2 separate regions of the Homo sapiens genome follow, and region 2 is linked to region 1. Evidence: fine-mapped QTL for protein levels in blood plasma. A gene starts in region 1. The other region holds a variant in brackets. All regions are shown on one strand. Distances are from middle to middle.

Region 1 (3,020 bases):
TGGGCATGGTGGCGGGCGCCTGTAATCCCAGCTACTTGGGAGGCTGAGGCAGGAGAATCGCTTGAACCCGGGAGGCGGAGGTTGCAGTGAGCGAGATTGCACCACTGCACTCCAGCCTGGGCAACGGCATGAGACGCTGTCTGAAAAGAGAAAAAAAAAAAAAAAAAAAAAAAAAAAAAAAAAATATATATATATATATATATATATATAAAATTAATACAATTGGATAATAATAGTATGTCCCTCATAGGAGTGTGATGAAGATTAAATAAATCAACATATATAAAGGCTGGCACATAGTGAGCACTGTATAAGTATTCACTGTTATCCTGCAGTTATTTATTGAGCTCCTTCTGTATGCATACTAACAATATAGACAGCAATAAGACCTATTATCTCTATCTACAGGTCTCTGTCAGTGTAGTTGGGACAGATAAACCAAGGATGACAAGCTGTGGTGAAGCTGGGCCTGAACTCATGGGCTCAAGTGATCCTCCCACCTTGGCCTTCCAAAGTGCTGGGATTACAGATGTGAGCCACTGTGCCCAGGCCCGTTGGCTGTATTCTGATAGAAGGCCTGCAGAGGTGTTAAAGCAAGGACTGATACAATTAGGTGATTAAGTCTGTTTAAAAAGATTGACAGGTCAGGGGAGAAGAGCGGCACACGGAGGTGAAAGGAGACAGAGATGAGGACCAAGTCATGAGACTGTCATGACTGCCTTTCATGATACTGGAATACAGTTGAGGGGGTGAAGCGAAGAGAAAAGGAATCCAGGGAAGAAACGTAAAGTCAGGAGGGCAGCAAACTAGGGCATCAGGGCCAGCCCCCTTTCTCAACTGGGCCCCACGCTAGTGCAGCTATGGAAGGCGCTGCTTGCTGAAAAATCCATATAGTACGCACCGTCTGCAAAGTCTCACCGGATGGGGACACTCTCCTAGTTGTGTGGCTTCCTTTTGTTTATGAGCTTCAAAGGCTGAATTACTCACCCTCAAACCCCCTCAGCGGGGTGTGGGGCCTGTAATTTGGGAGCGTCTATGCTAGGGTAGGGCAGCGGATGTCCACAAGGCCTGAGCCTCACACCCGGCTCCTGCAGCCTCTGCAGATTAAGGTCTGGTGACATGAGGTAAACACTCACTGAAGATGCTCTAAAAGTTGGCAGTCCCGGGCCGATGGTCCCTGAACTACAATTCCCACAATCCATTGGCGGGCGGGGGGTTCCAAGCCAGCCAAAAAAATGCAGGCTCTCTCTGGATGCAGTTTGAGGTGGCACTACACGTTCGCTTCCTTGACCCCATCCAAATTCAGCCAAGCTCCACCAGAACCTCCCTCAAGCCTTCAAGGAGGTCGGGTGACCCACCCAATACAGGCTAGGATGTCCGGCCTAGAAGAAGGAGGTGTGGCCGGGCGATGCCTATAGGGGCTACCCCCTTCAAATACCTTCGCATTTGCTGGGCAAGCGTTCTGTGTCATCGTCCTCCTCCTTCAACATCCCAGCCCAAGCCTCGTGCACGGCCAAAAAAAGGAAAAGCAATATTCCCAACCGCACAGGTCCCATGACAAAGCGCCGTCTACAAACAATCACCGCTTGCCTTCAACTTCGGGAAGGTAGTGTGGGTCCCTTAAATTCCCAGGCGGCTAGCGGCAACCTTAAATCCAGCCGAGGAAGGTCGGCGCATGCGCAGGATCAGCCCAACAAGGGTGGGGCCTCGTTGCTACGGGTTTCCCTGCCTCCGTTTTGTGGCGCCTCTTGAAGGTCCTGGCAGCCGGGTAGTGAAGGAATAAATTGCAGTAATTACACCAAGAGGGAGTGCTCCTTATATATAGATGTAGAAACAAACTTTTAAAATATAATTTCATTCTGCGAGCCTAGAGGACTTATTCTGGTACGGGGAAGGGGCAGTGACTTGCTCTTAGGCTCTGCCAGGACCTGCTCCCACGAGGGGGCGGGGCCAAGATGGCGCCGAGCGCCGGGTGAGCAGCGTCTCGGCTGCCGCTAGAGTTTTCCTGCTCCCCGCGCTCGGGTGGCGGGGGCGGGTCTGAGTGGTACCCCGGAGGAGACCCTTTGAAGGTCCCTTGTGGGGACTGGAAAGAGGACGGTTGGTTGTGTGTCTGTGCTCGTGGGGACCCCGTGTGTGTGCCTGCATTGGAGAGATGTTGCAGGAGATGGGGTGGGCTCTCTGAACCTCCTTTCGCGCTGCCCGGGGATCTTCGACCTGCTTCTCTGCTGGGATCTCGCTTAAGTTAACCCTTCCCTGGGACGCCTTCCTGCCGCCTCCACTGATCTGAGGAGATCCTGTGACTGTAGCGTGTTTTATGAGCCTTTACTGGCAGAGGGTACCGCCGGGTATTGAAGGATTCGTAGGAGTTCGCCAGGGAAGTGGGACACGACCCCCTCTTGTAAACCCGGCGCCAGGCACAGAGTATGTCTCGAATAGTTGTGTTCCCTATAGATAAGACTTATAAAAGTCGGGGAGGAGATCAGGGATGGTTTGAAAAGAACCAATTTGTTTTTCGGCCTCCCTCTTCCCATCCTTCCAGCACGGCCCCACCCTACCTGTACTACTCCTAAGCAGTATTGATATGTTAATCTTCCTAATGTCCAACTGCAAGTGTGCCACTTTAATTTTTTTTTGTTTTTTTTTTGAGACAGGGTTTCCGTCTGTTACCCAGGCTGTTGTGCAGTGGCACCATCTTGGCTCACTGCAGCCTCCAACTCCTCAGTTCAAGCGATCCTCCTGCCTCAGCCTCCTAAGTAGCTGGGATGACAGGTTCACACCACCAGGTCCGTCTAATTTTTTAATTTTTGCAGAAATGGGGGTCTCACTATGTTGACCAGGCTGTCTCAAACTCCTGGCCTCAAACAATCCCCCCACCTCTGCCTTCCAAAGTGCTGGGATTACTGGGGTGAGTTACCTCTCTTGGCTCCAATTTGCTTTTTTTTTTTTTTTGAGATGGAGTCTCTCTCTATCGCCCAGGCTGGAGTGCAGTGGCACGATCTCGGTTCACTGCAACCTCCGCT
Region 2 (2,500 bases), 34 kb after region 1:
AGGAAATTCCTCATTAGCCTCTGAATCTTTCAGCATAAACATTCCCCCTATAAACCAGCCCTAATCCGAGTTCTGTGAAATCTCATACTGACAATGTTGATTACAAGCTTATCTTCCCAATTATAGAACAAGGAAGAGACCAGGAATCATCCCTCCACCTATCCTGAGACAGATGCATAACTGACTTTTTCCTCCACTCCCTCTTTTCAAATGTTTATTGTATCTTACATAAAATGTAGATTTACTGAACACTAATGAGAAACTCACAAAAAAGTAACAATGTGCAGCAGGGTGTGCAGTGGCTCATGCCTGTAATCGCAGCACTTTGGGAAGCGAGTGGATCACTTGAGGCCAGGAGTTCAAGACCAGCCTGGCCAACATGGCAAAACCCCATCTTTACTAAAAATACAAAAATTAGCTGGGTGTGGTGGTGCCCACCTGTAATCTCAGCTACTTGGGAGGCTGAGGCAGGAGAATCACTTGAGCCTAGGAGGTGGAGATTGCAGTGAGCCGAGATGGACCCACTGGACTCCAGCCTGGGCAACAGATTGAGACTCTATTTCAAAAAATAAAATAAAATAACCATTTGCTGGACTGGGTGCAGTGGCTCACGCCTGTAATCCCAGCACTTTGGGAGGCCGAGGCAGGCAGATCACAAGGTCAAGAGATTGAGACTATCCTGGCTAACACTGTGAAACCCCGTCTCTACTAAAAATACAAAATATTAGCTGGGCATGGTGACACGCACCTGTAGTACCAGCTACTTGGGAGGCTGAGGCACAAGAATCGCTTGAACCTGGGAGGCAGCGGTTGCAGTGAGCCGAGATTGCGCCACTGCACTCCAGCCTGCTGACAGAGCGAGACACTGTCTTAAGAAAAACAAAACAAAACAAAACAAAAAACATTTGCCTCACTGCCTCTCCTTCTTCCTTATTTTCCTCTTGCATGCTTTCTTCCCTTAAATACTGAGTTCCTGGCCAGGCACAGTGGCTTATGCTTGTAATCTCAGCACTTTGGGAGGCCGAGGTGGGTGAATCACCTGAAGTCAGGAGTTCAAGACCAGCCTGGTCTCGACCAGTAGAGATGGTGAAACCCCATCTCTACTAAAAATACAAAAATTAGCCAGGCGTGGTGGTGCATGCCTGTAATCCCAGCTACTCGAGAGGCTGAGGGAGGAGAATCACTTGAACCCGGGAG[G/A]CGGAGGTTGCAGCGAGCCGAGATCACACCACCACACTCCAGCCTGGTTGACAAAGCAAGACTCTGTCTCATAAAAAAACCCAAAATTCACATCTGGCTAGCCTAGGCTGCTCCACCCCCTCCTTACCCCTAAACCTAAGCAAGTTGCACACACTGCTCCTCCTGCCACCCCTACAAAGAGGGGTACAGACACCTAGAAAGAGCCAGACATACTCTGGCTCTAGGTGTCTGTATCCCCACCCAAAGTGTAAGCTCCTAGAAAGCAGGTGAAGAACTGTGTTATGACCCTGAACAGCCCCATATGGTGATAGTTGTAATTTACAGGGGAATTATGCAATCTCTCCGTTTAGGAGCCTGGATGAAGGAAACTTGAAGGGGCCAGCAACCCTCAATGGAACGGACTTGAGAAATCCTGCAGGAAGAGGGGTCTTCTCGCCAAAGGGAAGTTAAAAAGGAATTTATTTTATTCTAGTCCCCAGTGATAAACCAACCAGGTCTGGACAAACTGAGAGGGTTGTCAAAGAAAAGTACCTAATGCCTTGTTTCTATTTGGAAAAACCAGGTCAGAAAAATGTATCTCTTTGGTGAGATGTTGGCTCACTGCAACCTCCACCTCCTGGGTTCAAGTGATTCTTGTGCCTCAGCCTCCCAAGTAGCTGAGATATCAGGCTTGCGCCACCACACCTGGCTCATTTTTGTATTTTTAGTAGAGATGGGTTTTCAGCATGTTGGCTAGTCAGTTCTCAGACTCCTGGCCTCAACCGATCCACCTGCCTCGGCCTCCTAAAGTGCTAGGATTACAGGTGTGAGCCACCGTGCCTGGCCAGAAAAATGTCTCTCTTTAAAGAATGCTAGGCAGCTTCCAAGGAGCATAGTGCTTCTCAGCTAGATAGAAGGCTAAAATAAAAACAAGATGAGAATTATTCTAGGGTTAGTAAAGTTGATCGTTTGCACTGCTCTCTCACACATTAAAGAACTCCTTTGCCTTGTTGTTTCAGGTGCTTTTGAAACATTGTTCAGATAATTATACAGCTCATAAAACAAGAGATTATTGTGGAATTTAAGGATGACTTTGACATTGAATCAGTTGATTGTGCGCATTTTAGAACTAAGTTTGCTAAACGTTTCTTTTTTTTTGTTTTTGTTTTGTTTTGTGTTTGTTATTGTTGTTTTTGAGACAGAGTCTTGCTCTGTCACCCAGGCTGGAGTGCAGTGTTACAATCACAATTCAGTGCAGCCTCAACCTCCTGAACTCAAGTGACTGTCCCATCTCAGCCTCCCAAGTAGCTGGGACTGCAAATGC

The links. A credible set is the group of variants that fine-mapping cannot tell apart. PIP is the chance, under the fine-mapping model, that this variant and not a neighbour inherited with it causes the effect. Protein levels are from antibody-based Olink assays in UK Biobank. Linkage for the fine-mapping came from a reference panel and not from the study's own genotypes, which makes the PIPs less certain.
Region 2: its variant is the best candidate, but not a certain one, in a credible set for the plasma level of the CNPY4 protein (UK Biobank, PIP 0.53).

What each region holds. Positions count from the first base shown.
Region 1 is chr7:100,118,281-100,121,300 of GRCh38, reverse strand. CNPY4 (canopy FGF signaling regulator 4) reads right to left here and starts at 1,667. Exons shown (of 6, transcript NM_152755.2): 1 at 1,439-1,667. The coding sequence starts at 1,556. TAF6 (TATA-box binding protein associated factor 6) reads left to right here and starts at 1,943. Exons shown (of 15, transcript NM_139315.3): 1 at 1,943-2,097. RefSeq lists enhancers at 971-1,040, 1,411-1,630, 1,841-1,990.
Region 2 is chr7:100,084,737-100,087,236 of GRCh38, reverse strand. No RefSeq gene overlaps it. Among named protein-coding and RNA genes, the nearest start is that of COPS6, 3.0 kb to the left of the region's middle. RefSeq lists an enhancer at 1-148. The variant G/A (reference allele first, on the strand shown) is at 1,198.